Homo sapiens: one gene and its partner. The protein of the gene in region 2 interacts with the protein of the main gene of each other region in a biochemical or structural test. Each region holds a gene or a part of one and is shown on either strand. Other genes may lie near its edges. The genes, in order: SCN8A and FGF14.

Region 1 (16,577 bases), on a different chromosome or scaffold from region 2:
GCAGTCCAGTGGAATGCCCGGAGTCTTGAAATGGGACACTCCCACAGACTGTCCAAGAAGTCTGCTGACTGGCTCTGAAAGGTGCCTGTCAGTGGGCACATGCTGTGACTGGCTGACACAGTACCTTGGCCATCAAGCAGAATTTTAACCCTGTCAACAATATCATTTAGATATAAGCTTGATTTTAGTAGCCAAGAGTTAAGTAACAAGAAATATGTCTTGATAATTTTTATTGTTGATGTTGGTGGTTCTGTTTTCCCTGTAGAGTTTTGTTTTTCTCAAAATCTTTACTTTTCCTTACTTTTTACAGAACCAGTCTTTGATTTTCAAGGGATTTTGAGAGGCTTTTTCACCTATCCCCACTAGAACTCCAGTCAGACCAGGCTAGCAAATAATGTTATTTTTCCTTTCATGAAAATTTAGAGATTTAGGATGACATCTAAATTAGAATTGTAAGTATGCAGAAGACTTTGCTCAGAACCATCAGTAAAAAAAGAGGAAATAAGAGAAGGTCAACAGCTAATATTCAGGAACTCCATGAGACAAGCCAACCCAGAACCAAGTTCTAGAATAAGAAAGCTCTTAGGTGGCAAGGGTTTTCAAACGGCAAGTAAATGTACAATTAGCAGTGGGGAGGGAGCTTAGTATATAGTCCAGCATACTTTGTACTAGATGTGAGGGTAAAAGGAAAGAAATCAAGAATGGTGCCTCGATGTGGGGGTTTAATAACTGAGGGAAAAGTGGAATGACTGCAAAGGAACTGGCTTGACGTATAAAATCAAGAGTTCTGTTTTGGACATATTAAGTGTCTATTCACTGAGTGGAGATGCCAAATAAGGAAGTTGGGTACGTGCTGGACCTCATGAGTGTTTTCTGGACAATACCAGAAACTCAAAGATATACTTTGTTGCCAATCAACACGAGCGCTGAGATTGGCAGAAAGAACACAGAATTGGAAGTCAGAAGATTTGGGTTTTCATTCCTATTAGATATCGTATAACCTTAAATAAGTCATTGATTTCTGTCCAGAAATGTTTCACATCTGTAAAGTTAAGATAATACCATGCCATCACTGGTTGGGAAGATAAAATGAGAACCTATATGGAAGTCTTTGGGATAGCTAAAAGTATCTTATAAATCTTAGGAACTGTGTTAGTATAATTCAATAGGAGAATTTTCAAAGATTTGGAGAATTGGGTAGAGGCTTTGACTGAACCTGAGAATAAGAGGATGGAAAAAAAATGAGACTGACTTGTGAAATAAAGTATGACCTTGTCCTGTGGTTGGAATGTGAGGCTTTTCCTATAGCCCTAATTGTGAGTTAAGTTGTCTTTGTCTGTAGACATACAGAAAGATGTTTTTAAAGAAAGATGAGAACAGTCTTCTGCAAATTGAAGATCCCTGCCTCTTCTACCCTCCCCAAAAGAGAAAATAATAGTAGGAAGAACCTTAGAGATAATTCAATCCAATCCACATGTTTTATAGAGGAAATTGAAGCCCAGGGAAGCTGTGTGACTTATACAGCCTCTATGTTATGTAGTAGATAAATGTAATGATTCTTTTCCTGCCTTTTTTGCAACTAACTGAATACAATAGTAAGTTTATGAGGTGACTTTTTAAACATTCTGAATCTTACAGGAAAGTTTCAAGTACAGTACAAAAAACTTCTTTTTTTTTTTTTTTTACAATAAAAGCCTTATCACATAGCCTTATCACCCCCAAATGCTTATAGTGTGTATTTTTTATACACAAGTACATTCTCCTACATAACCATAGTATAACTGTCAAAACCAGGAAATTAACATTGATACATTACAATGTTGTGAAGTAAAGTATGACCTTGTCCTGTGGTTGGAATGTGAGGCTTTTCCTATAGCCCTGATTGTGAGTTAAGTTAAGGGTCTAATTCTCAGGCCCTATTCAAGTTTTGCCAGTGATCCCAGTGGTATCCTCTGTAACAAAAGGATGCAGTTTTAGGATTACCCCATTACATGTAGCTATCATATCTCTCTAATTTTCTTCAGCCTGGAGGAGTTCCTCAGTCTTTCCTTGACTTTCATGTCTTGACATTTTGAAGACTACAGGTCATTTGTTATGTAGAATTCCCTCAATGTGGGCTTGTCTGATGCTTCCTTATGATTAGATGCAGGTTCTGCATTTTGGTAGGAATATCAGATAAGTGAGACTATCTTCTTCACGTTGTATCTACCAGTTGGCATGTAGCTTCCATTTGTCCCACTACTGGTGACGTTCATTTAATCACTTGATTAAGGAGGTGTCTGCCAGGCTTTTCATCTGTGAAGTTACGCTTTTTCCATTTACAGTAAGTCCCCACTTAACATCCTCTATAGGTTCTAGATTTTTGGAAACTGTGACTTTAAGCTAAATGATATACTGTATAACAAAACCAGTTTTACCATAGGCCAGTTGATATAAACAAGAGTTAAGTTCCTATGGCATATAGTACATCATGTGGCTTAAAGTTGCTGTTTTCAAGAACCTATTGAGGACATTAAGTGAGGACTTACTGTATACTTAATAGGTATTTGTGAGGAAGACCATTTGAAACGATTTAAATTTCCTGTTCATTCAGATTTTGATTTCTTCCTTTATTTATATCAGTATGGATTAATGGTTTTCTATTTTATCTGAGTTACAATCCATTTGATGTTTAGACTTCCTCTGATGTGGCCAGTGGAAATTCCTTCAAGCTGGCTTCTGATCCCTTTCACATGTCTTCTTCACTTCCTGGCTTTCTGGTACCACAAGGTATTCCAGGATACTTTCGTGTTTTTCCAGCCCCAGGGCTGGAATCAGCCATTTCTCAAGAAGCCCTGAGTCTTTTAGTGGAAAAATGGCATTTAGAAGTAGAGATCTAGGCTGAGTATCAGCTGAGGCAGGAGGATCGCTTAAAGTTTGAGACCAGCCTTAGCAACACAATGAGACCCCATCTCTAAAACAAAATAGAAAACTAAAAAAAAAGGAAGAGGTGGAGATCTGAGATCTAGGTATGCATATTGCTATGGGAGCAGCATGCAGCCCCTCTTAGGACATGATGAGCTATTTATATTGAGCTAGCCGTGGATATTGCAAACCATGAGTTGATCCTGTCACTTCCAATTCTAATCCAACACTTCAAGATTCTTTCTAGTTTTCTCCCTTTCTGTATTTGTAACTCCTGCAACAATAAGAAACCTCGTTGCCACTATCTTTGGTATACTTATTTGATCAAAAAGCCACTGTTACCTTTTATAGCATGGGTACCCTCCTCACCCTGTATAGGCTCTGGGTGCCCCCCACCCCTTCAGCACCCGAGCCGTGTCCTCCATGTGGACACCTGCTCACACTCCTCAGCTTGGAACCCACACCAGTCCAACTCACACATGGTTTGCCCCACCCTGCTTAGACCCCGATGCCTCACAGTAGGCCTTCGCCTGCATGGACATCCTTCTCACCCCACACCAGACTCTCCCCTGACATAGAAGCTCTGTTTATCCTGCACAGACTCTTAACACCCCTCACCAGGCCACCCCTCGTCACCCTGCTCATGCTGCCATCTGTCTGTGTGAACACTCCTGGAAGTTCTCACCTGGCCCATTGACTTTATCCCAAACTAGGCGACATCCTCCTCACCCTGATGAGCTCTCACACCCTCACTGTCCACCTCCCTGTTTGGACACTTTCCTCACCCCACTCGGGATCTGACACCCCACATCAGGCCTTCCCCTACATGAGTCCCTCATCAGCTCACCTGGCTCTGGCACCCCTTGTGAGTCTTCCCCTGCAGGGAGTCCCTCCTCAGCCCACTCCGGGATCTTCTCCTGGAGATGCTATCTTTACCTTACTTAAGCTCTGACTCTCTCTGCTAAGTCCCCCACCCCCTCAAGTGTGGACGTCCTCCCACCACACTTGGGCCTCAACACCTATGTGGGGTAGCCACGCCTCATACCACTTCCAACTGCCCATCCTAGACTGTTGCCCAAAGCGGATGCCTCTCCTTGGCCCACAGGCTCAGACAGCCCATGCCAGCCTGCTGCCCTGCATGGACCTCCTCGCTCCCCTCCATGTCTGACTCTCCTTGCTGGGCCGTGCCCTTCCTGGGGTTCCAGCACTGGGCAGCAGCCTCCCTCTACCGGCATGCCCACCTACAGCCTTCAGGACTGAGTGGTTCAGGAGGAAGGGGATGGAAAGAAGAGCTAGGGTTTAATCTGACATATAAGTTTAAGTTCTCAGATTCTAAGCAAAAGCAAAAAAGCAGAAAGTTATTTTCCTCCTTCACCAAACATAAATGAATGTTATCATTTCTTAATTATAGGTTACCTAGATTTTCAGCTAAAAAGAATTCTTTTCAGATTTTTTCTTTCATCTGTGCTTCTATAGCCCCATATGGATACTTCTTTTTAAATACTTGTCACATGATTTTTAGTTATTGTTCTGTCCCCTCCTGGTTGGGTAACCAACCACCTTAATTTGCAGAGGCCTGAGGAAGCCCTTGCAGTTTTAAAACTGGGACAGTCCTTGTCAACAGGTACGAGTTGATCACCCTAACTGGAGATGCAGGATGCAGGACTTTCGGTGTGAAAAGTGGCAAACCAGGATGAGTTACTTACATTCTGGCGACTGAGTTCGTAAGGAACCATTATTTTTCATGGTCACATTTTTTTTTTCATGTCTCCATTGCAGTACACATAGAACTTTTAATCAAATTGAACTTGATTAACTTTGGGCGAGGATCTACTGCAGAACAGGAGCTGACAAGCCCTTTTCTGAGCACAAAGAGAGGAGCATGCCAGACGCTCGTCACTTTCAAATAAGGCTGAATTTTTTCTGCAAATGCAATGAGGGCTGAAGGAGGTGTGTGACTTCTCCCCAGACCCCATAGTGACGCCAAAGTGAAATATACCCCAATCTTAGGACTATATAGGCCTTACTTGTTGACCTGGCATTACAAGTTATCAGGCATATGACCACAGGCTAGTCCAAACTAGACTAGGCATGGCTCATGCCTGTCATCCCAGCTCTTTGGGAGGCCGAGGTGAGAGGATTACTTGAGCCTAGAATTTCAAAGCTGCAGTGAGCTATGATCATGCCACTACATTCCAGCCTGGGTGACAGAGCAAGACCCTATCTCAAAAAACAAAACACAACAAAACCCAAACTAGAAAGATATGATGACTGTGAATTCAGAGTATTTTATAGAGAATAGAGAACCATTGTTTTATAGAATATTCTGAGGAGATCAGGACTCCTTTATACTCTTAAATAAAAGTGCTATGTCTATTGATATTTATCATGTTTGAAATTAAAACTGAGAAAATTTCTAAACATTCATTTTGTAATTAAAGAATTACAATAATATAGCTAGGTGAGTCCCAGCTACTTGGGAGGCTGAGGCAGGAGCATGGCTTGAGGCCAGGAATTTGATGCCGAAGTGCTCCAGGAACACGGCTGTGAATAGCCATTGCTTTCTAGCCTGGCTAGAACATAGCGAGACCCCATCTCTACAAAAATAAAAAAATTAACCAGACATGCAGCTCATCCCTATAATCCCAGCTACTCAGGATGCTGAGATGGGAGGATCACTTGAGCTCAAGAATTCAAGACTATCCTGGACAACATAGCAACACCCTATCTGTAAAATAAATATCACAATAATACACCTATCACACATGAACATAAATAACATATTGGTGTGGGGAAACTATATTTTTTAAGAAAAACTGGAAGAATGGCATTGTTCGACATTTTGCAAGTCTCTTTAATGTCTGGTTTGTTTGTTTGTTTGTTTGTTTTGTTTTTTGAGGCAGAGTCTCACTCTGTCGCCCAGGCTGGAGTGCAGTGGCACAATCTCGGCTCACTGCAACCTCCGTCTCCCAGGTTCAAGCGATTCTTCTGCCTCAGCCTCCAGAATAGCTGGGATTATAGGTGCCCGCCACCATGCCTGGCTAATTTTTGTATTTTTAGTAGAGATGGAGTTTCACCATGTTGGCCAGGCTGGTCTTGAACTCCTGACCTCAAGTGATCCACCCACCTGGGCATTCCAAAGTGCTGGGATTATAGGCGTGAGCCACCGTGCCTGGCCTCATGTCTGGTTTAATAGAAGGTAGTTAGATTCTCTTTTTCTGTTTCTACATTCAGTCTGTTGTGATATGTTATTTTAGCTAAAGTATAGGAAGAAAAGCTTGCCTCACACAGATATGTACAGTAGTCCTCTCTTATCCAAGGGGGATACATTCCAAGGCCCCCAGTGGATGCCTGAAACCTCAGATAGTACCAAGCCATACACACACACATACACACACATATACACATACATGTATGTATGTATATGTGTGTGTGTGTGTGTATATATATATATACGTGTGTGTATATGTACAGCCACGTACCACATAACAACATTTTGGTCAATGACAGACTGCATGTCTGACAGTGATACCATAAGATTATAATGGAACATATATAAAAACTTGTTATATGCCATTTGATATTGGCCTTGCAGGTCAAGTAAGAGAAATGATTGATGTTAAGTAAAGGTGCTGGGACATTTGGTTTTCCATATTAAAAAATATATATATATAAATGAAAATATATATATAAGGCCTAGGTTTGTGTAAGTACACTCTTTAATGTTTACACAATGACTAAATTGCCAACAACACATTATCCCTATCATTAAGCAATGCATGACCATACTGGGTTTTGTGAATCTGATAACCAAGATGGCTGCTAAGTGGCTAAAGGGCAAGTAGTTTATACAGCATGGATACACTGGACAAAGGGATGATTCACATCCTGGGAGGATAGAGCAGGACAGCTCAAGAGTTCATCATGCTACTCAGAACAGTATGCAATTTAAAACTTATGAATTGTTTTTCTAGAATTTTTTATTTAATATTTTTGGACTGTAGTTGATGGTAGCTAACTGCAACTGCAGAAAGCAAAACCACAGATGGGGGGTACTTCTGAAGTTGGAAAAGAGCGGACCATGTGCTTCCTGAGAGGGCCTTAGGGACTCTAAGGATCCTCAACTACCCTTTGAGAACTGCTGCATAAGAACATAAATTCTAAAGTGAATATTTGATGACATTCAGGAGAACAACACTGTCTAAGTAATGTTACCACAACAGAGTACCATAGACTGGGTAATTTATAACAGACAGAAATTTATTTGGCTGACATTTCTAGAGACTGAAAAGTACAAGGGCATGGTGCCAGTACCTGGTGAAGACCTTTGTGCTACATCATCCCATGGTAGAAGGCCAAAGGGCAGAAGAAGCTAACAGTGAGAGAGCAAGAGAGGGCCAAACTTGCTTTTATCACAAAGCCCACTATTGAGATAACCAGCCCACTCCTGCAATAACATCAGTCCACTCATGATGGCAGAGTCCTCACATGACCTAATCACCTCTTATCAGACCTTGCTGCCCAACAGTGTTGCATTGGGGATTAAGTTTTAATACATGAACTTTGGGGGACACATTCAAACCATAGCAGACACTTATATATAATTGCTGATACACTGCATGTAATTCTTCCCTTTCTCCTCTTTGAGAAGCATATCACAGTGCAAACAAGAGCATCATAGGATAACCTTAAATCTGCTCTTCTCAATTTTTAAAAAAGCAATTCCTTCACACAGCTAATAGTTATAGGTGTATTTTGACACACACCCAACTGATGGCAACATACCATGTGTTGAAGCAACATGGTGGCTGACCTCTGTCACAGACAATTTCTAATGCCTGGGGCCATTCATCCTGGTGATAGGCAACACCACATAACTATGTCATTGTTGATTTCCCTTAGGAACCAGAGTTCCCACAGTATAGATATTCCATGGTCAATCAGCCAGTGCTTCTTCATGAGCACTTCCTGTGTGTTTACCAGGAACCAGTGGGATAACAAATCAAGTCTCTACTTAGTGTGTGTTAGGCAGGCTAGCATTTCTATGTGGAGAAACCTCCGATGGGTTTACACTAAGGGTGAAATGTATGTCAGGATTTGATGAGCTGTCTGTACTTTCCCTGAACTCACTCAGAGGGATGTTCCATCTATAGATGCTTAACTTGTATTATGAACTTTGATTTTACTTAACTGGATCTCTTTGTGGAATTTTTTTTTCAATTTTAGAATATTGCATCTTCAATCTAGAAACATGAGGAACTACAGAAAAGCATATGAACACCGAAAACCTATAGGCCACTTATCCATTTTGATGTATTTTAGTCATCATTCTGTTTTTTTATTGCTGTTTATTAATTCAGTATATTTCCAAACAGCATCTATAATCTAAGTATTTTTTACTATTTTTAATTTTGTTCTCAGACTATATCTTCAGTTTTCCTTAAACTGTTTCATGTGGAAACTTGGTAAACAGGTAGTTACAAGTACTAATATATTATGACAGTTTTAAATCTATTGTAAAAATAAGTCCTCTCCTCTAAAAACATAATATTCAATAAGAGTCTGTTGTTATATGGTTAGCCTAGAATGAAGGTATTGGTTTTGTCAAAACCGGCATTCATGGGATTTGACTTTCATCCTGCATATCACCTCCTAATGCCTGCAGGATATGGAAGTCATCGGGAAGTGCAGGCACTCTGTCAGCAGAAAAATGGGAGATGGGTAACATAGGGAAGATGTCATTTTTACACACAATAAGCTACAAATCTAAAACATTTATTATGTCATTGATTATCCTATTGAAAAAAATTAAAAGGAAGCACCGAAGTCTCCAACAATAGGAAAATTCTTTGAGGATGTATTTACCCAATAGAATTTTATTCACTATTTATTTATTTATTTATTTATTATTATTTATTTATTATTATTTATTTATTTGATAGGGCTTGCTGTGTCGCCTGTGCTGGAGTGCAGTGGCATGATCCACTGCCCTCCAGGTTGGCTCACTGCAACCTCTGCCTCCCGGGCTCAAGTGATTCTCTCACCTCAGCCTCCTGGTCCCTGGTACCATAGGCGCCCACCACCACGCCCAACTAATTTTTGTATTTTTTGTAGAGATGGGTTTTCACCATGTTGTCCAGGCTGGTCTCAAACTCCTGGACTCAAGTGATCTGCCTGCCTCGACCACCAGAAGTTTTGGGATTACAGGAGTGAGCCATCATCCCCAGCCGCCAGTAGAATTTTATACAGGCAGTAAGAGTGAGAGTTGGGAGAACCGTGTAGCAACATGGATAGACTTAATGATAAGTGAAAAATCAGACCCAAGATATTATGTATTCTATGATTTTCCAACTCTGTCAAAATACCTGTGTATTTGAAAAAAAAAACAGAAAGAAAATACATGAAAATGATAGTTGTATGCAAGGTGGTGAGATTATAGATATTATTTCCTATATTTTGCACATTTTGGCAATATTGTATGCTTTTACACCTTGTGGCAAATGTCTGGGTTTGGTAAGATATAATGTCAAATTAGCATTAATACTTTATTTTTCTAATCATAACGCGAGTGATTTTTTTAAGCAAACATCACAAGTATTATATACATTCAAAATGACTGCTGACCCTTTGAAAGGAGTTGCCTGGTGTAGTATTGCCATTGCTTAGCATATTTTCTCAACTGCACTCTTGAAGAGTTTAAATTGAGTGGTTCTGGCAACAAAGATGGGAACTTTGGGGCTGGGGACTTCATTCAAGAGGAGAATAAGATTTTCCTGCATCAGGTGGGGTGCTCATGAGACATCCAGGTATTGATATCTTCAGATGCAGAATTTAACTAAGGTTAACTCTTGAGGTTTCTTGGACATGTTGTTTTCAAAAATAATGATAAAGGCATTCTCTTTCTACTATTTATTTTTCTTACCCCCTGCATCCCCCTATTTAGGTTTTCACTGGAATTTTCACAGCGGAAATGTTCCTGAAGCTCATAGCCATGGATCCCTACTATTATTTCCAAGAAGGTTGGAACATTTTTGACGGATTTATTGTCTCCCTCAGTTTAATGGAACTGAGTCTAGCAGACGTGGAGGGGCTTTCAGTGCTGCGATCTTTCCGATTGGTATTCCATATTTCTCCAATTTCTTTTAACATTTCCTATCTTGCAGCTACTAGAAAGAGTTCTGCATAAATTAATTTGATGATTTAAAAAATATATTAGCTGTATTTTACTCCCAATTCCAGTTATTTGGCTTAGCTACTAAAATACTAAAAACTTTCCTAAAATACCTGATATGGAAGTTAGTTGTTAAAAATCAATAAGCAAACAGAAATCAATTTTAAGAAGCTCTTTAGAAAATGCTGCTTAATCTAAGAGATGTCTAAGATGATAAGTGAAAAATAAGACCCAAGACAATAGATGAAGAAAATGAACTCCCCCAAGGCCCAGTGTGAGGTCTAATTTGGGTTTGCTAGTGAATCTATTTTTTTAAATCTGAACATCTCCTTGAAATGGCAAGAATTTCTCCTTGTTCAAAGATGACTTTCTTCATTTCTTCTGTCATGGTAGCCCTTCCAAAAAATGAGAATAAAATAAGGTTTTTAAATACAGATGGTTCCCAACTTATGATGGCTCAACTTATAATTTTTCCGCTTTACATTCTGCAAAAAAGCAGTGCACGTTCAGTAGAAACCATACTTTGAGTACCCATACAACCGTCCTGTTTTTCACTTTCAGTATAGTATTCAATAAATTACATGAGATATTCAATACTTTATTATAAAATGGGCTTTGTGTTAGATGATTTTGGCCAACTGTAGGCGAATGTAAGTGTTCAGAACATGTTTAAGGTAGGCTAGGCTAAGATGTGATGTTCAGTAGGTTACGTATATTAAATGCATTTTTACTTACAGCAGTTTCAACTTAAAATGGGTTTATTGGGACATAACCCCATCATAAGTCAAGGAGCATCTGTATTATATTGAAATTAGTTGTTGAACATTGGCTTTATTTTCTCTATCATTAGCTAAAAAGGAGTTTGTATTAATGTATTTGAAGAAGTTAGTGTTTAAGTTACTCTTAATGACTTAAAATGACTCTGAAAGAATAGTTAATGGTATCTTCAAAACAGCTGTCCGTAAACATAAGCGTAAGTGATATCTTGATTAACTCCTCGAGAAACTGAGTTATCCTGGGGGTATCCCACTCAGACAAAGGTCACTACTGCTTCCCTGGCATTAGAATTGGCTTGGGTTTTTCACTCCCTATTGGGAAGATAAGCACTTGGCAACTGAAAAGGTTTAAAGTTTCTTCATTGAGATATTCAGCAGTTCTAAGAAAGAACTGGAAAAAGTGAAACTATTTGTAAAACAGAGATTTCACTCAGTCAAAGTCACAAATAACTGCCAAATTTTTGAAACCTCTGTTTACTACTCTTTGGTTAGGATCCAGTCCACAGTGGACTTTTTTGAGAATAGTTATTACCTAGGTGACAAAAGAAAGGATTGAGAGTAGCCTTAGAACTTATATTCTTAATAAATTAAAAAGCCACTCTGTTGAAAACAATATGAGTGGCCCAGATGTCTGCATATAGGGTAACACCTGGTAAATATTGAACTCTCTGATAAGATAACTTTTCAATTAAAAAAAAGTTAAAATTGTGCTGTTGCCTTCTACCAAAATTCCTATTACATTCTATGTTAGTTATTTGTTAGCATATGACATCTAATGATGATCTCATAATTATAATTTTATTGGCCACACTGCCATAGCCTTTATGCGTTATAATTCTCAGGCTGGGCCAGGCACAGTGGCTTACACCTGTAATCCCAGCACTTCAGGAGGCCAAGGCGGGCGCATCACTTGAGGTCAGGAATTTGAGACCAGCTTGGCCAACATAGTGAAACCCCATCTCTACTAAAAATACAAAAATTAGCCGGGCATGGTGGTGCACGCCTGTAATCCCAGCTACCTGGGAGGCTGAGGCAGGAGAATCACTTGAACCCAGGAGGCGGAGGTTGTAGTGAGCCGAGATCACGTTGCTGCACACCAGCCTGGGCGGCAGAGTGAGACTCTGTCTCAAAAATAAATAAATAAATAAATAAAAAATAATTAACACTCTGTTAGCCAAGATCTTGTGATTATTTATTACAGAATATAGATATTTCATGATTGACAGGTACTAAAAGTTCTGTCCTCTGAATAACAGTATAGGCTCTTTTCTTTTTTTTTTTTTTCTTAGACATAGTCTCATTCTGCTGTCCAGGTTGAAGTGCAGTGGTGTGATCTCGGCTCACCTCAACCTCCACCTCCCAGATTCAAGTGATTGTCATGCCTCAGCCTCCCAAGTAGCTGGGATTACAGGCCTGCACCACCACACTTGGCTAATTTTTGTATTTTTTATTAGAGACGGCATTTCACCATGTTGGCCAGGCTGGTCTCGAACTCCTGGCCTCAAGTCATCTGCCTACCTCAGCCTCCCAAATGCTAGGATTACAGGCATGAGCCACTGCACCTGGCCAGTATAGGCTCTTTTCATAAGATGACTGATGTATGTGGAACTGCCCCTGTTTGAGAGTTGTGCTTTTCCTCCAAGTTATTCCAAGCATATCACAACGGTTTTTTTTTTAATCAGCCATTGATTATTTATTGGCAAGCAAAATAGGTATTTAGAATTTTTTAATGTTTGCTTTTTTAAGGAGATGGATTTTTTTTTAAACTGTCCTTCCCATACTAGTCTTTTGGTTTCCTACAAATCACATTTTATTTCACTTGTCCTGTGAGAAGTCAAGGGAAAATTAGTAGGAAAGGGATATGTTCATATGTGGGTTTTCAAAAAGCAGACTGACTCAGATCTAAAGTAAGGGACTAAGGCAGTATTCCTGGCTTCTAGTTACAATTTTTTCAGCTACTCTGAAATTAATCAGTTTTCCCTTATTTATGTCTCAGTTTCTCCCCATTTAGTCTGAGACACTGTTAGACAGTCCTGGGAATTTTCCAAGGGTGCTCAATATATTTAATCTGATCTTCCTAATTTTATGTTTTTATTTTAGCCATGTGGTGAGAAAATTGATTGAGTATCATTTATTTTTTTGTTTGGGTTTTTTTTTTCCTTAGCTCCGAGTCTTCAAATTGGCCAAATCCTGGCCCACCCTGAACATGCTAATCAAGATTATTGGAAATTCAGTGGGTGCCCTGGGCAACCTGACACTGGTGCTGGCCATTATTGTCTTCATCTTTGCCGTGGTGGGGATGCAACTCTTTGGAAAAAGCTACAAAGAGTGTGTCTGCAAGATCAACCAGGACTGTGAACTCCCTCGCTGGCATATGCATGACTTTTTCCATTCCTTCCTCATTGTCTTTCGAGTGTTGTGCGGGGAGTGGATTGAGACCATGTGGGACTGCATGGAAGTGGCAGGCCAGGCCATGTGCCTCATTGTCTTTATGATGGTCATGGTGATTGGCAACTTGGTGGTTAGTACTAATTTGTAGATATTTTTGTTCTACACCCTGAATATTCTACCCCTGGCCCAGAAGCCCAAGTCCTTCTACTGCTTAGTCCTTCTACTACCCGTCATGTTTGTTGATTTTTATTCTTTCTTGGCCCAGAAACCCTAAGGTACAAATGAAGGAGAGGAGAGAGATACTTACAGAGTGCCTACTTAGTCATGACCCCCACAACTTGTCAACCCTTTTCCTAGAGTTAGGAAAGCAAACTCAGCAAAATTAAGTGACTTTCCCAAATAAATATAGGGCTTGTATTTGAACCTAGACTTTAAAGTCTGTGCCCGTTCGCCTACAGAAGCCTTCCTTTTTCTTAACGACAATTTCTCATCTGTGGTGCTATTGACATCTTGGGCTGGATAATTCTTTGTTGTGGGCTGTCGTGTGCATTGTAGGGTTTAGCAGCGTCCCTCCTGGCCTCTACCCACTAGATGCCAGTAGCATCCTGAGAGCTGTGACAACCAAAAATGTCTGCAGACATTGCCAGATGTCCCTGGGGGGCAAAATTGCCCTCCATTGAGAGCCACTGCTCTAAACCATCTTAGAGTTTTATTTAATTTATATAAATGACAAATCACTTTATTGCTTTACTTTGATCTGTCCACCTGCTCTCTTCTACCTCTGTCTTTAGAAGAGTCACCAACAGATCTTAACACCTTGCTTCTTAAAGTGTGATCTGAGGACTAGCAGCAACAAGATCACTGGAGAGTGTGTTAGAAATGCAGAATTCTAGGCCCCAAATCAGAACTACTGAATCAGAATCTGCATTTTTAACAAGATCCTTGTGTGACTCAAAAGTACACTAAAGTTTGAGAAAGGACTATCTTACAGATCAGGCCCCTAATCCCACCTGCAAGTGTAGGGCAAAGAGGACTGGAAGAAGACAAGCTTATCTGTCCCTTAACATGCTCATCCACATTAGTTCTCTTCCTTTTTCTGCCACAGAGAAGCATGACAGTAAAAGGCTCCTACTCACCAGCCTCTGAACCAGCTACAACTATTCTGTTCTTCCATTTGACCTACAAAAAAAATAGCTACTGTAATGTTTAATTCTTCCTATTCTCCATTCCCAGCCACCTTTCCCTCAGTCCTAATCCCTCTAGTCTTCTCACTACTTCAGTGACTATAACAATGGCTTCCCGGTATGTAGCATGATCAACATTTTCAAGCCCTGACTTTGCCACCCTTTCTTCACTCTCCTGTTCTTATTTGTCTCAAAGACATCTCCCCATGGCTGTCTCCAGATACCTGAGCACTTGATAAATATCAGCTGTTACCACTACCCCCTGATGACACTTTTCAGGTTCCCCTTTGCTCAGTAGTCCTTCTGCCCATCTAGTTTCTAGGAACCTATAACTTTGGAGTATTTTCTGTCTCTTTTCTCTCCACTCCCAGCAAATATCTGATGTGTCTTAAATGCATCTTTCTTCATAGTATTTCTGTGGATATCTTTCTTCATAGTATCTAAGATCTGCCCCTTCCTTTGCATTTCTATAATTCATTCAGTACTTTATAAAAATGTGGTCTCAAGACCACCTGCATCATAATTACACAAGTTTCACTCACAAAAAAAGGCCAAGTCCCAGGCTGTATACCAAATCTACTGAATCCAAATATCTTTAGAGTAGGCTAAGGAAATATTTTTAACAAACATCCACACCCCTCACTCCCTGAGATTCTAATGCATGCTAAGATTTGGGATTTCTGTAGCCTAATCCAGACCCTTATCAATTCATGCATGTAACAGCCTCCTAACTTCTGCCCTTCCCCTCTGTATGTAGTTAGTCTGAATGACTCTTTCAAATCTCTGTCATCATCTGTGACTCCTTTACTCAAGAACCAGTAGTGGATCTAATTAAATAAAATTCAGATCCCTCAGCCTGGCCTTCAAAGCCCTCTCCAACTCACCCGCATTTTACCAACCATATTCCTTTTTAACTCTACAAATGGTGCAGATAATCCGAACACTTATAGTTCATTTATTGTTTCCACCCTCCCACTCTGCACATGACTGTTATCTCCTCCTAAAATGTATGCCTTACTCTTCTTCCCAAGTATGACAAAGTAAGGACCAAGTGTAAATCAAGAAGTGAGCACCTCTCCCACTCCTAAAAAGTAAGTCTTAATAAAAATAAATTAATTAACCTTAATGTTCAATGTAGTAAAATAGGAGATTAAAACAAAAATAAATAAAGCTTGTATCTGATGGCTTGACATTTGGCTATGCAAAAAAATATAAAAGTCACCATCACTGTCTTGCTAAAGCGATTTTATTTTTATAAATGTTAGGAAAACAAAATTTGTTCTTAAAATATGATGACATGAAGTGTATTTCAGTTCTACCTTCTTGGTTTTTTGTATGAAAGGATGGCACTTCAAGCCTCATTTTTTTTTCTGACGTGGGTCCTCTCAAACTCTGCTCATGAATATGTGGCATCTGTACACTTTGTGACCCTCCCCAGTAATGTATATTCACCTTTTTATTTTGGGGAAATGTCCTTCCAAAATGGATACAGCCTTTGTTTTTTCTGATTATAAGAGAAGTAATATATTTTCGGGTACATATATATGTATGTAAAACTATAAAAGACCCAAGAAAAGAGGTGCTAAACTCCTTGTATTACAACCAAAACCAAACACATTCCCACCTGGTAACATGAGCATTAAAATACTACGTGGGCCAAACACAACACAACAGAGCCTCTTTGAGTCTGTCACGTGAAGTCCATTGGCTTCCAGTTTGCAACCCTGAGTTCGATGGATAACTTTTCTGCATTTGTTCCTTTTTTCCAATGCTACTGGCATAGGTGCTGAACCTGTTTCTGGCCTTGCTCCTGAGCTCCTTCAGTGCAGACAACCTGGCTGCCACAGATGACGATGGGGAAATGAACAACCTCCAGATCTCAGTGATCCGTATCAAGAAGGGTGTGGCCTGGACCAAACTAAAGGTGCACGCCTTCATGCAGGCCCACTTTAAGCAGCGTGAGGCTGATGAGGTGAAGCCTCTGGATGAGTTGTATGAAAAGAAGGCCAACTGTATCGCCAATCACACCGGTGCAGACATCCACCGGAATGGTGACTTCCAGAAGAATGGCAATGGCACAACCAGCGGCATTGGCAGCAGCGTGGAGAAGTACATCATTGATGAGGACCACATGTCCTTCATCAACAACCC
Region 2 (16,577 bases):
TAAGAAGAGTGTCAAAAATGTCCTCGGCATTTGTTTTCTCAGAAAAAGAATTTAGATATTGGAGAAATTATCATACCATAAAAAGTTCAAAATGTGATTCATCTAAAATTTTGGACAAAGATGAAAATATAGTCAGCTCTGTTCTAGTGTTCATTTAGTTAGAAACCATAGTACCGGAACTGTATTATAGTAGAAGTTAATGGTACCTAAACTCTAAGGAATGCTTTTTCTTTGAAAACAGAAATATTTTTACTTATTTCTGTCCACTATGTTTGTGTGTATGTGTGTGTTTGTGTGTGTATGTGTGGTTTTGATGCCAGCAATGCAAACACCAATATATCTATTAAGAAGTGATTGAATTTAGATTGGAAAAAATAAAATAGTTACATGTAAAGACATAAACTCTTTCCTTCTTAAATGTGATTTTCAACTCTATGATAGAAACTCCCTCTAAAAAACAAGCAGGGCAAGAACAAACTTACTTGTAATGGGTGAGAGAAAATAAGCAAATCTCATTGGCTCATTCCTGTTTTTAGGAAGTTGCAGTGGGATTAATGTCAATTGGAAGGGATGCAGCAAGTTTAGAGAAGGTGTTGGCACTAACGCTGCTTGTTTGGCAAATCATCATCACTGAGGTATTCCACCCAGAGACTTTTTCAAAAAAGTCAACTAAAGTGCTAAGTCATAAGAGGAGAGCCATTATACCCGTTGTCTTTCTGGGCTCCTTGAGTTTATCTGGATTCCAACAGCACTTGGAAAGTACCGCCCTCCACTACCTCAAATGCAAACACAATCTCTGCCAGTAGACATTGGAATTAGACTTAGTGAAAACCAGGAAAAAAAAAAAAAACTAAAATATAACTCAGCCTTAGTTTGCAGACTCAACTGTCAACACTTTGAAACCCTACTCCATATTCAAGAGAGTCAACAGGCCCTATGTCACATTGTAGGCTAAGAAACCTCAGCTATGACTACTATTTCACTCAAAGTAAGACCATGTACATCCTGGATTTTGATATGCCTGCATTTTGGAAAAAAAAATTGAGGATTTAGCCCAGTCGCTTTCCCTTGATATAGCCTTGTTCTGAATTAAAATGGAAAAAATATTTCAATTATTTTCATCTTGTTCTCAACTGGATGTTAGTCAATGTGGTCTCTTTTTGAATATGTATCAAATATTAATGATCCATAATATTAGGGAGATAATTTTAAATGAAGTGATACGTGTCTAACTTACTTAAAGAATAAGTTTTTGGTTTTTGCTTTTAAAGACAACCAAATCTGATATTGTTCATCCTGATAAAAATAACAACTTTTAGTGCTTAAAGCATTAATTAAGCAAGTGGCTAGGTATGATAAAGAACTTCTGCTTGCTCCCCAAGAGGCAAACTATTAGAAGAACTGGAGCGGGAGTCCTTTGGACCCATCGTGGATCTCTTTAAGCCACTGCTACCCAAAAACATTCAGGACAAGCAAACATTTAGAGCAAGAATCTCCAAATTCTTCAGGATTTGTAATGAAATGATGTTCAGTTCCATTTTGCTCTTTACATAGGGTGGAGAATTGTCATGTCTTCTCTAATTTTTCCAAGTAAAGTGGTAGCAAAATGTTTTAAAAAGCAATCTTATATTAGAAAACAAAAATGTTGTCACTTGAAATACCAAAACAACATTTCTGAGCGTTGTTGAGGGACTGGCAAAGCAATCAGCTACTATAACAAATCAGTAGAAATAACCCTCCCACACCAGATATGCATGCAGAAGGAATGGAGTATTATAGAGACTTGATACAATGGACATATGCACATGGAGGTACAAAACACACAGTCTAAATACAAATGAATTCCATCAGATTTACTATACGGAACATCAGTAGTGACAGATTGCACTTCTTACTTAATAACAGCAAACTTAATTTCTGAGGGGAAAAAAATGGCGAAGTCTTATCCCAAACAAATAGCAAGAGAGGTATCATCAAAGAGCTAAAATTTTCTTTGGCATGGTAAAGGGGGAAATTGAGTTTACCAACTTATTTACATGACATTTCTCTATATTGGTGAGTAATGCAATGCCATTTTGTTACATAAAGTTGTTTGATGTTTTTTAATATGCCTTCATATAAATATTTTATTCAATATGTTGTATTTGTGAATTTAACAAATGATATTAAACACAAACTACAATGCAGACAGACAAACTCTTTGTATGCAAATTAGCAATACATACCAACAGTTCTTGATACACAGGTACCTACTACATGCAGCTCATCATTGCTGTCCTCTTCCCATGCTACAGGTGAGACCAGACACAAAGTAAATGACCTAACTCAATTACAAATAACAAGGACCCCTCTGCAATATGTCTAAACATATATTAGAAGAAAGTATTTGACATCCTTCATAGGGATAAATGCCCTTATAGACACCCCATATATAAAACACAACAGAGATACACATTTACATAAATCTCAGTCATTTACAAAAATAAATCTTGTCTTAATTTAAACCAATAAACAGACTTGCAGGGGAAAAAGAAACCAGCAAGTAGGGCTAATTATCAGTAACAAATAGATGGGGGTGTTTGCTCTGTGTGTGTGTGTGTGTGTGTGTGTGTGTGTGTGTATATGTGTGTGTTTGTGTGAAGTGAAGTGTTGCTGCTGTAAGTAGTGTCCATAAGCCCATTTGACTGTATTACAAGTTAGTTAATTACTCATATAGTTGGCCACATATTATGGGATCTATGTTTTCTGAAAATAATTGGTTAATGGAAGTTATCTAATATATTTTAACTGTTCCTGTTAAAAACAATAGGCTTCAAGATGACATAACACCAAATCAAAAATGACCAAAGGAATCATTTTGTTTGTTAGATTTGTAATTTAGCATCATTGGCAATAAATCTACTCAAACGTTCTGCTAACTTTTTATTTATTCAAGTAGAATCCAATATGAAAATGAAATAAGCATAAACAAACAGTTAAATTTCTACTAAACCTTTAATCAGCTAAGCAGGCCAGAATTTTTTAATGCTGGGCAAGGGCTGTCATGAAGAAGATTTATGAAAGCAGTGACAAAATAATTTCCCAATAAATACAGTGCAGATGGGGAAAATGATGACTGGGTCATCCTCCCACATAGAAAGAATAACAAGAGGCCAGTACATTGATCCCACATATAATTTTCAATAAATGAGGTTCAGTTTGGTCTCAATGAACTCTTCTGAGAAGAAAACATTGAATTTTATTAGGTGTACACAGAGTTAACAAATAAATTCCCAAACAGTTTAGTATGAAACATTTTGAACCCCTTTAGATCCAATATTGAACATTTTGCATGGAATCTTCATTGTGTAGTCAACTGTTCCTGGCCTTTCTTGGTAGTTGTCTTCCCTAAGCTCAAACAAACAGTGTTAAACTAAAAAGGAAATTAAGAATGCAAAATAAAAGAAAATAAATGGAATGGACCAAAATCCTCATGGATGAATGTGTTGGTTTGCCTTTATTTTCATCTAGGATAATTCAACAGACTGTATTCTGAGATCATGGCAAGGCACCTCTAACCCAGCCACTGGGCAACATGAGCCCCAGATGCTGAGCTAGAGGCATGTACTGGTGAAATACACAGTACCGGACTCAGCATGCTGAGCTAAAAAAAATATTTTTCCTAATATGTCCAGTTTAAAAACTTGTCATTAAACACCAAAAATATTAAAGTCTAATTAATTTATAACTAACGTTTGCATTGCTGCTGCAGGAAAGAACACAACAGCCGTCTTGCCCATGCTCTGCTGAGTATGAGGGGAACGCAGCCAGAAACGGGGATGGCGTTAAGTTTGGTTCATTAAAAACAGGACGGAGTATATCTGAAATGGATTTAGGTAGCGCAATTCTTGTAGGTTATAATTACTGATTTTCCTTTTTTTTTTTTTCCAAATAATGAGAATTAATAGATGAAAAATGAACCTTAATCAGGCCTACAAGGCCTACAGAAATCTTTGGACCCACTTTCTCAAAAACCAGTGGGTCTTGCTCGCTGGGCAAGGCAAATGTTACCATTACCAGTAAGCTTGTGATATGTATAAAACACACACACACAAAGAAACTAGAGGGGGATGTCAAACACATATCATAGAGAGCTTCCCTGGATTGTGTTTGAGCCATTTCCCACCCAGGCAATGCCGACCTTGGGAGCACAGTATCTGCTACTGGACAGAGCGTATATGTGTGTTTAATCGATAGTGTGAGCCAGAGACAACAATCTTTCTTAATCTTTCTTTATAGATGCAATTTGTAATAATAGGTTTAGAAGGCTTCCTGATTCCCTGATTGCTCTCCGACCTAAGCCAACTGCAACATTTAAGATTTAGAGGAACAAAATCCCTGCAAAAGGTCACAGACAGTGGAGCGAGCAGCCCTGTAAAAATGGGAAGAAGAGAAATCCGTAATAGCACAGGTTTACAGCGTCTAACTAGAAATTACTCAATATTATTTGTGTGCTACAAAATTGAACTTAAACACATAGATTTCGCTGAAACAGGACTCAAAAAGGATTATGGGTAGCTGTCAGCAGGCAAGGTATCGAGTGTACTTGTGAAGTATGTCATTCACATGAAGTGTCACAGTCACAGAAAAGATATTAAAAAGGCATTCCATATCTGGTAGGGCATTCCATGGTCTGAGTTTAGCTGGTTATCCAGGTGTCTTCTTGTTGTGGGGGGTGCAACAGGTTGAGATTTATCCACTTGCAACAGAGAAGTTCGGAGACAGCAAAGAATAAGCATTAGCTTACTTCCTGCTGCTCTTCAGCCACGGAGCAGGAATGTCTGGTGAGGATAAATCACTCAACTGTGCTCAGGACGAATAAGTCACAACACCTGTGAGGATCTGGCTATGTTGTCTTACTCTTGTTGACTGGTTTGCCTCCATTCATTATTGCAGACGCACTTGTGCTTTTACTTGGCGTCACCCCAGGCTTCGGGACCGTTTCCCCAACATCATGCAAAGATGGTTCTCGGTACATGGCAACTAGTGATGGGAAGAAAGGAGGAGGAAAAGCAAACATTGCTTGGTTAGGTGTGAGAATGGTCCATCCATACCTGCATAGACCACTGCAGTTTGCCCATTTCTGTTTTCCCTGAAGTAAAGCAATTCCATTGAGACAGAATTCCTGTTGTAAAGCAATCATTTCCAGCCCACAGAGGACATTACTCCCTTCACATTCTCTGGTCTGTATACCTAAAATATGTATATGAGTGTGCATGGATTTTTGTCTAGGACAGCAGGTTTAAATGGGAGCTATGGCCTCTTTGTGGGTCCATGATGTAAAACACACACACACACACACACTATAGGAGAATGACAGGCATTTAACTTAATTCTCAAAAAAAGAAAACTCAGACATCCCTTCCACTGCACATTAATATCAACACATGAACTTCTCATTCACTTCAATCAATCTTTGTGAGCTGCGGTATTTACATCCTAGAACATTAAATTACTTTCTTTCATGTGGTTCAAAAGCAACATAGTCATACTAGTGTCAACTTCAAAGCTACACAAAATAATAACAAATAACTCTCTTCCCATAAGCCAGAGCCTTCAGGAGATTATCATTTCAATGTTCATTTCCTACAATCATGGAAAAAGACCCTTGGGCAGCAGAAGGCAACTCATTTTCTGCTATGTTATTAAAAATCTAATAATTGACATGATACAGGGGCAGAAAACAGAATGGCAAGACAGCAACTGAAACTACCTGAATAAACTCTGAGGATTTATCTAAATAGTGTCTGGTGGCATAATCATAGTAGTTCACGTGGCTTTTTAGAAAATGATTTCTGGAAGTCCTGAGAAAGGACATATAAGAGTGACTGATGGTTGGGGAAAACTAGGGATTAAAGTCATCTGCCATCAGAAATACAAGTGCATTAGAGCTGCCCAAACTGCTTTTTAGGTTTTTGAAAGTTTAAGGTATTTTACGAAGAGCCCTTAGATTTAGTTAAGATGAACTACCATATGCATTCCCTATGTTCAAGGGGGTAGAATGTGGCCTTTAGTATCAATGCATCACGTGAGTTTTCATCAGCACACATACTTGAAAGTGCAAATGTACATAAGGTTTCTATTAAATTACTTGCTAAGGTAGCAAAAGGAACTAATGCGTATCCTGAAAGCACATTCCAATCCCTCACTCCTATTACTAATTAAATTAGCAGACAAAAGCATGAAGCATTGACCTTGATTTTCTATGTAGTGAAGTTGTATCGTCCAACAATGATAGACTGGATTAAGCAAATGTGGCACATATACACCATGGAATACTATGCAGCCATAAAAAATGATGAGTTCATGGACATGGATGAAGCTGGAAACCATCATTCTCAGCAAACTATCTCAAGGACAAAAAACCAAACACCACATGTTCTCACTCATAGGTGGGAACTGAACAATGAGAACACTTGGACACAGGAAGGGGAACATCACACACACGGGCCTGTTGTGGGGTGGGGGGATGGGGGAGGGATAGCATTAGGAGATATACCTAATGTAAATGACAAGTTACTGGGTGCAGCACACCAACATGGCACATGTATACATATGTCACAAACCTGCACGTTGTGCACATGTACCCTAGAACTTAAAGTATAATAATAAAATATATATATATATATATATATATATATATATATAAAACAAAGATATGAATGCCCTAGAGTACCAATAATTAACCAGGTACTTAATTTGTCAAACATTTCCAATAACATTATTTATATTCGGTATGGGTTTTGAAAGTTTGAAATTAATTTTCCTCTATCAAGTAAACAATGTGATAATCTCTGTCGTTATAGTACCTACCCCCTTAACTGTTTTTAGAGTACTTCTGCTAATTTTTTGAAAACATAAAAAGTATTATTTCTCTCTTTCTCATATATATATATGTATATATACACACAAAACACTCATATACACATAACAAATACATGAGTGAAATACCAAGTATCATTCTATACCACATCATTGTTGTCTCAGATATTTTCTATGAGATATGCAAAATAACTGGTTCCCAAATTTTACCTCGGTTAAATGACATAACAGCCCTTTTGGGTTTTGTTACATTTATGCAGCTAAAGGGTAAGGTTCTAAAAATCTAGTCAATTCTTAACTATTTACAAAACATAAAATGAGTGAAAAGAGATAAAGCACGGTGGCAAATAAACAATGGTCTTATTAGAGCTTCTGTGGGCTTATTTTTTAATTTTTTATTTGCATTTAAATATAGGTGAGTCCAATGTTATCAAAATTTATTTAAAACAATGAAAGTGTATCATGGATGTGTTTTTTTTGGGAGGAACAGGGAAATCCTCTAACTTCTTTCTACTCTAATCATCCTTATGATCCACCATATACTGAGAATAATTCACTCATATTTCAGACTCTGGAATAATCTGTCTTTTCCTGTATAGGCCCTGGTAGCTAACTGTTTGGGTTTCAATAAATTGTTCTACAGAAAAATATAATTAAGAGTGACACTAAGTCAACATCATTGAAATTACAGAAGTAGTATTAGCCAACAAGAGCGATTTTCTGAATTTAGGCAAATTGAAAATTATACACTCACAGATGATGAAGAATTGACTGTTCAAATTTTTAAATTATTTTATTTCAATATAGAGAATATGCATTATGAAAACAATATGCATTTTCTCGTGATGGCTAAGCCTTTCCTGTAGGAATAAAACACAAAAAGAAAATTGAGCTGTCCAAGCTAGCTTAAAATATTTACTGAGTTATTGTAGATCTGATCTTCTGCAAAAGAGTAAACAAAAGAACTTGAATAGAAACACATGTGAATATCCTAAAATCAAATATTTTTGTAATTCTCAAATGTTACATAGATAAAAGTAAATGACACTTTTGGCAGAATCATTAATGAGAGAGGTGCAGATGTTGTTGATTAATTAAAAAAACTTTGTAGCCTGCTCTTTGGGTATCTGATTGGAGTAAATGTGAAATTTCCATTCATCCGGCATGGATGACTGGATATACCCCTTCCTGCACACAAATGAATGTGGATAAATTATTTTAGTAAAAGAAGTAATGCTACAAATGTATACAGTGAAGAATTACACAATTTGAAAGCAGATGTGTAATATCAGCAAGTTCTTTAAGAGTCAAGCTATTATCTCTTATTTTTCTGTAATTATAATAATCCACAAGTAGGTAATTACTTTCACCTAGATAATATCAAAATGGAAAATACTTTTGATTCCACGCTCAAAACTTATTTTTTCTAATATACTTATTATCTTTTTCTAATATACTTATCATCGCAGATTTGTATCATTACAGATTTAAAATTGTTTTAACTTAATTAATTTAAATTATCTAAGGGTTAGAGTGGTTGTAGCAGTGAGGATTTGAGCCTTTGGAGGTGGCAGAGAAGAAATTTTTCCTGGTACACATACATACACAAATATAGTAAAGTGTATAAGGGGCACAAATTCTAAATCAATAACTTAAGTAGGCACCTGTGCAACCATCACCTAGATCAAAATAAATGACATTTCCAGCACTTTGTGAAGGTTTCTTAGAGCCATGGTAGACCTATCAATTTGAAAAATAAAATATGTAATAAGTCTATGTAATAATAATGCATGCATAATACTCACCTTCCAATGGCTTGGGTAGAAAATGAGCTGCTGGTTTGGTTTTCTTTACTCTGTTCCCTTTCATAGCTTGCCCTTCCTTATTTAATCCCAAAAACCAGGCTCTACCAGATTCCTGTTGTCTGTACAACATGGATGAGTAGATTACATAATAATTTTCAAAAACAGATTCTTTAAACTTGCATTCAGGGGTAAAAAGTTCCTGTGGAGAGAAAATGAAACAAAAGTTAGAGGAAGGAACTTGATCTTCACTGTACATTCTACTCATTCTCTAGAAAGTTTCCCAGCATGGTGAAAGAGTGCTTTGGCATGGAGGACCGGATATACCCCTTCCTGCGCACAGTAATTGTCTATACATTTTTAAAATATACAATAAATTGAGAAGAACCTACTATTATTGAAAATATATAGAAGCAAAAGTATATCATAAGAAAACAATACATGAGCAAACTAAAGATTTAACTTAAACAGAAGACAATTCAACCAGAGTATAATCAGAAAGGGAGCATTAAAGTAGCATCAGATATTCACAATAAAGTGAACCAAATAAAATACACATTTCAGATATTTTATAATCCATTTTACATGTTTCCATAGGAACAGTGATATAATACTCTACAGTTGCCAGTTGCTCCTTGGATCACTGAAATCACAGGGTGATACATTTTACTTACAAAGGAACAAACTGAAACCTCAAACTAAAACTTAGACAATCAGCTGGCTTACTTGCCAGCCACTAGAGCTATTGTATAACCAGATGAGGTTAGGTGTCATGTTAGCTGGTCATAGTGACAGTAGCTGAAAATAATTCAATGGGGCTCCAAAGGTTTGAGTCCCGTTGGAACTCTTGAAGATAAACATCAAAAGCTGCTCCAACTGAAAAACCACACAGCATTTTTGGAAAGCATACAGTTTGTTAAATACTATTATGCTCAATGCCATGGTCTGCATTAATTGATGAGCAGCACAAAGCTTACTACTTTACAATTATTATTAATGTCAGAAATATTCACAGATGATTTTTATATACTTCTTACTTTGGGATGAATAATAATGAATATAATCCCATGCCAAATAAATAAAAAATTAATAAGGGTACAATCTACATATGCATTTTTGATAGCCCTCTATTAAAAATAAATTTGAAGTTCAACCTGTCTGGTTATAGACCATGAAAGACACCTAGCTAGTTTTAAATAGGTCCAACACTGTGCTATTCTATATGTATATAAAATATAGATGGAAAATAGATCCTTACTGTCCTTGATCTTTTTGAAAATACCACTGGACTAAAAAATATACACAAAGTTTTCATTTTTCTTTAATAGATTTTATTATTGCAGAAAATAATAATTTTTGGTTTTCTTCTAAAAATGTTGTATACCTGTTCTGAAAAATATTCCTTAGGGGCTAAAAACTAAAACATTAAGGGCTTGACTTTATGCTAACTGTAATTAGGAATGTGACCTAATGTCATGTAGAAATTTCCTTTCAATATTCCCCATAAAAGTGTGAATTATCAAATGCTGTCTCATGCAGGAGACAATTTATTCAGTGTGCTGAATAACTTTCATTCACTGAGAGCTAATAGTTTTCCAAGGGGAACAGCCTTTGTTAGTGGCAGATGCTTTTCAAGACAAAGATGACAGTTACAGTGATCAATTTGATGAAATCACAATAGCCAAATGACAGGTTTAGCCCCCTCCTGGAGCAACTTATGTAGATCTTTATTTCTTCTTGATGATGCTACCTCAGATTAGAATAAGATCCCATCCAAATAAATGTTCTGGCTTTCTACTGAGTTCTGCATCTCCATATATCCTCCAATTAGTTTTCTCACTAATAAATGAGAGTCCACTGAGTCAATGTCCAGGCCATGCGCCCGAAAAAAAAGATTGATAAAACAGTACATGTTCATGCATTTATTGTGAGTAAAACAAAATGGAATGCTATAAATCTGGCTTCTCCCCAAGAGACTAATAAATATATTGGTTGAAACTATACTTTCTCAAACAAAAGGATTAGACTTTGGCATTTCACTTGTCTTTTTACTGAGACAGGGCAGGGCACCTAAGCATATTGCTTACCAGTTAAAAACCTATCTCAAAATCAGCTATGAGTGACATGCTGAGAGCTGACTTAGTGGGTCACTTAGTGGAAGTCAGGGGAATCTGGCTCTGCCTCCTGGGCTTCGGGTGTCTCTGCCCAGAACCTGGCTCACTGATGCTCATCCTGTTGCTACAAACACCAGAAACGTAGGTCCACAGGATTCTCTTCTGATCGTCACTGCCATAATGTCCAAAACATGAATGGTGCTTGCAACACCATCAGCAACTTAGGGATGTATTGTCTCCATTATGAATTCACTGTGTTGAATATGGAAGAGAAGAAGATGCTTGATGTAGAGGAAGTAATTTATTCTCGGTGGATACCTTAAGGATTCTGACACTATATCTTTTCAGATGAAATGTTCACATCATAGGACTCCAAAGAAGTCAATTCCACAGCACCTTTCTGTGAGCTGTGCCCGTGACTTCACAGATAGGTGATTCTTTCTGTAGAACTATTGCCTTCAGTTGCTTGTGATAGTGGAGACTGGTATATTTTCAGCCTTCTTATTTGTGGCTAAATAATTAATGCACACACAAATGCACATGTTACATTCAAAGATGTTATTGTCTAATACATTTTCTCAAAACTTTTTGAGAACTTAATCTGTTCCTCCAATATTGAAGTCTCAAATAATCCCAGCATTTCCTATAGAACCGATAGAACCAATGGAAGTTGAGGTTAGTTGCTATTTGATGTCATAAGTGATATACTTTCAACACGTAAATGGGAAGCAATGGAGCAGATAAACATCACCTGTGGAGGCAGACAGTAGGATTCAACCCTGACCCCACTAGCTGTGTGTTCTTGGGGAAATTACTCAATCTCTCTGGGCTTCAGTTTCCTCATCTCTAAAATGAGGACAAAAATCATAGGGCAATAAGGTAGTTGGGATGATTGAGTGAATAAATACGTATTACACATTTAGAAGAGAACTTGGTATACAGTGAGCACTCAATAATTATTCTTTAAAAGTTTCTCATTATTTGTAGTAAAAAATATATCCTGATCAGTTATTTCAATTCTGTGAAAATCTCACCAAAAGTCAGCTACATAATTAGTCAATGAAAACCATTTTACACAAAATATTGGGTTCAGCATGAAATATACCAAGATAAATAATAGTCATTCATTTCACTGAAAAATGACAGAACAATATAATATTTGTTATGAGTGACTTACCTATAAAATACTAGAGTGATTATAGGGAGAATAAATGGTATTGTGAAAGGCAAGAGGTGGGAAATGGCCTGGTACATTTGGAGAACTGTAAATAGTTCATCACTGAGATACACGCTTTGTGGGACAGAAGTGGAGAATGTTGTAGATGGGAAGATAGGTTTGAGAAACATAATAAAGGGTCTTGAAAACTCTAATAAACAAATTAGATGTCTTATAAGTGAGAGGAAGACATGTTGAATTCCTGAATATGCAAGGGAATAATAATAGGGCCTGATTCGTATGTTATAAATACAAATCTGTTGTCAGTGTGGAGGATGGTTTCGAAAAGTTAAGAACATGTCGTACTGATGTTTTCAACCCTAATCTCTCACAAAATGAACCTGAAAGTTGTTTGTAGCACATGAGTATATGTGTGTTCACGTTAATAGTTAGTATTAATATTACAAATAGAGAACCAGAACACACAAAGTAAGGGGAGAAATAATATCAGGATTATGACACACTGACTTCTGAACTTTCTGGTAGCCAGGACAAAAAGAGAAAGACTATAATGTTACAAAAATTATTCAAGAAAGAAAATATTTTCCTTTTTGAAAATGAAAAGTTTCTTGGCATGAATTTTTAAAAGGTATTTCCTTATAAGGGACCTAAAAAACTGACATTGACCAACATAAACAAAAATGCTCTTGAGAGTAATTGCACAGTCATACTTTGTGCTTCAATCCTGCAGTATGCTTTAGGAAAACAGATTGCATTGAAAATGTCCAATAGGTAGAACTACTTAAAGTCCAGTAGGTGGAAATAATTGTAATTGATGAGATCTCCAGGGATAATGTGCACAGCACGGGCCACAAACTCAAATGCCTCTAATGACCAGGTAGATACAGGAGTGAGGAAAGCTGGCATGATCATGGCACCGTAATGAGGATAAATGGCCTCTGACTCAGGCTCTGTGGTGAGGAGATGAAGACAGTGGTAGAAGCAATGATTTTTTTAAAAAAGCAGCCGTCCCTCACATGGTTCTCCTGTGAAAATAAAAACCTTAGATCTTTAGAAGATCTGATTTTTCAAAGGAAGTAAGAAATGTAAGTTTCTACAGATAATCTCCTTTTAACATTGGCAACTATTTCTTAGTTTTTGTTTTTCAACCTTGAGTGGGTCAAGGGGCCACAGGGAAGCCTGTGAGCCTTCAGTATGAGACCTCCAATGTACAGCAGCAAGAACCAAAGAAAGAGGAGCCCTACTTTGCTTCTCAAGGCAGTCCTAGTCTAATTGATAGTTGCTATACAGTTGGATAATACAATTATTGTGCCAGTGAAACACTCTCTAAAACTGGCAGTGATAATATGAAAATGCTTATTTAAATTTAGGCTTAAATATAAACTCTTTGAATCTGCCAAAACGAGATCGATAAGGAGTTTGATGTATCTTTTTCTCACCTTGCCTCCTTGACTATGTTTAGAACCATCACCCCCACCACAACAAAATCAACAACAGATGAGTTCCAGCAGAAGCTTGAATATTAATTTGCACCACTGCCAAACTAAATCATCAAGTCATAGGATAGAAAAATGCAATAATTAAACAGAAATGTTATATCTTTTTTATGTTGTGGTTGTTTTTGAAATGAAAGCACCATCTGTGGTGTACTTATTATCTTAACAGTAGCAGCAGAATTCCTCTTCTGAGGGAAATGCCTTTGTTTAGGAAAATACCGTGATGGGCCATTTGCTTGTACAAAGAGAGACTTCTGGTTGGAAGGAGCTCTCCTTCCATAACTCATCAGGAATGAATAACTCAGATAATCTGGCAAAACCATAACCTCAGAATTGAAAGTGACCTTGAGAATCTAATCCAGTGGTCCAGCAAACTGACTCTCAGGCCAAACACAATTTTCACCTGTTTTTGTAAATAAGGTTTCATTGGAAAACAGGCACTTTCCTTTGTTTATATATTGTCTGTGTCTGCATTTACACTACAAATTTCAGAGCTGCGTGGTCGAGAAAGATCTTTATGGCTCACAAAACCTAAAATGTTTACTATATGGTCCTTTGCCAAAAGTTTGCCAATCCTGATCTAAGGTAAAATTTGAGGACTTTCCAACCTAAGTAATTGAGGGAAGAGTTATTAACCCAGTAGCAAATTCCTAAGGAGCTAAGCATTCCCAAGTTAAACTTGGATTGCACATATTTTCACATATGCAAACATATACAACTTGAAGGAGGAGCTTCACCAGTGTTTCATCCTTGGAAAAGCCTTTATGTTCTGTTACGAGCCCAGGCTTCCACTAGGAATTAGCCCACCAACTCCACTTAGTTACTATGTCACCTTGGTGTTATCTAAGACTAAATGAAAATTATGTTTTTGTTAATGTCTTCAAGTTTGCCCACCATCACCATTTAAGGGAAAACTATAAAAGGGGCATTCTGAACACAATCATAACATTTTTTAGAATACTAGGCAATTCCAAAATAACTTAAAAAGAGGAAATAGAGAAACGATATTAGACACAAGTAGCAAATAGCACATAATAAATACATGATAAATAATAGCTACTAATATATTACTAACCTCTATTTTCCAGAGTCATCCACGAATTCAGTCCCCTCCCAGTAACAGCTCAATAATGACCCTCATCCTGGACTCCTTAGGAGTATCTCTCCTCAGAGGAGGCTTGAACTTAAAGGAGGAGGAGGTCTCCAAGTCCAAGTTCTTACTTTGAGTATAATATTAAACAACAAAGGGTTCTTTCAAATATCAAATAAGATAAGAGAGGTGAAAAATAATTTATGGACTAGAAATTAAGTTGTAATCTGTAGTTATATTTACAACGAGAAATTGAGTTTGAAAGTGCAACTCAAATGTTGTTATCATGAAGAAGGCTGTTATTTAATTATTCTTAATAGATTTCAACTTAATTACACATACCTTTAGATGGGAATTCCCATATTCAGATCCACTTAATCTGAATTCTCAATTTTTTTTCTTCCCTTTTCTACATTTTGGAGATTTGATCTACTAGAGTTTATCTGAGGTCAGCAGAGATTTATCCCAATCTCTTTCATCTTTTACAGTTTTAAAATCAATTGTATCCTTTAATGCTACTATTCTGACACTAACCACTTCTTTAAAACAAAAAGGCAGAGTACTCTTAAGATTACTTATAAAGAAAAGAATATCGTGAACTTTTAGAAAGATTTTACAGTCCTGAAGTTGAAACAAAATATTTGTAGTTAACACTCAAAAGCAGAAAATTAAGTTGACTAATGTACTTTATTTATATAAAGTTGTATGTAGTCAAAAATTTTTAATATTGGGCTGTGACTAATGCCCACAGGAGAAAAAAAATTAGTTAATTGGTTGTGTGTGTACCTCAAATAAAAGCATAATTATGTACGAGTTTAAGAGACAACTTTTGGCAGTGCACGGTGGTCACTCCTGTAATCCCAGCACTTTGGGAGGCCAAGGCAGGCGATCATGAGGTCAAAAGATGGAGACCATCCTGGCCAACATGGTGAAACCCCATCTCTAATAAAAATACCAAAATTAGCTGGGCGTAGTGGCACATGCCTGTAGTCCCAGCTACTCGGGAGGCTGAGGCAGGAGACTCACTTGAACCTGGGAGGCAGAGGTTGCAGTGAGCGGAGATTGTGCCACTGCACTCCAGCCTGGCGACAGAACAAGACTCCATCAAAAAAAAAAAAAAAAAAAAAGAGAGAGAGGAGAGAGAGACAACTTTTATCCTGATTACAGGACCCAGGAAATTTAAGTATATTTCTACCAACAAAGGAGTCTCGACAGCAACTTATATTTATAGGGCCAAATTCTGTTACTTAAGTAGTTTCCCGGGAAACAAAATGGAAAATTAAAGCATTTTTTGGCAGTAAAAATATTTCTCAACATTTAGAGATTAACACATCATTAGATACAATAATTTATTTATTAAATATTATATGTTACTTTGATTCATTATATTTATTACATGTTTTATAACATTTAATAACTAAATATCAAATAATTTGATTTGAATTTTCACTTATTCAATATAAATATGTATTATATATTTTAAAATATGTATTTTATATGTGTGCATAATTTTTAAATATACATAAGGAGATGTCTGTGTGTGTGTGTGCATGTGTGTGTGTGTGCACGTACATTTAAAATGTGGTATTCAGGGACCAGTAGCAACTTCATCACCTGGAAGCTTGTTAGAAATGCAGAATCCCAGGCCCACCTCAGACCTACAGAATCAGGATTTGCATTTTAACGAGGTCCCAGGTGACTGTATGCACATTAAAATTGGGACATATTGGCATATATTCTCATTACTACATAGAACAAATCAATTAATGATCACATTTTAAGAGCTGTCAATTAAATTGACATTAGTCATAAGCTTGCTACCATTTCTTAACATTAGTACAAAATTTATAAAAGCAAGAAAATAGAAACAAAAATCTGTGGTATTTACAATACGTCTATAAGTAAGATATTTTAAGATTATAAATAAAAATGTGTCCCAACTTGTTCTACAATGTAAAATCTTTCTCTCTGGAATATAGACATGTATAAACTCCTAAAATAATAATCCTTGTAAGATGAACAGATGGCACCAGTGCT

The links.
Region 1: the proteins of FGF14 (region 2) and SCN8A form a complex in vitro, tested with the Homo sapiens proteins (2 studies listed by BioGRID).

Annotation. Positions count from the first base shown.
Region 1 is NC_000012.12:51,752,656-51,769,232, forward strand, and holds part of SCN8A (sodium channel protein type 8 subunit alpha), read left to right. Parts: intron 1-9,847; coding exon 9,848-10,021; intron 10,022-13,015; coding exon 13,016-13,372; intron 13,373-16,209; coding exon 16,210-16,577. UniProt on the Homo sapiens protein: Pore-forming subunit of a voltage-gated sodium channel complex assuming opened or closed conformations in response to the voltage difference across membranes and through which sodium ions selectively pass along their electrochemical gradient.
Region 2 is NC_000013.11:101,717,946-101,734,522, forward strand, and holds part of FGF14 (fibroblast growth factor 14), read right to left. Parts: intron 8,866-16,577; coding exon 8,667-8,865; intron 5,023-8,666; coding exon 4,886-5,022; 3' UTR 1-4,885. UniProt on the Homo sapiens protein: Probably involved in nervous system development and function.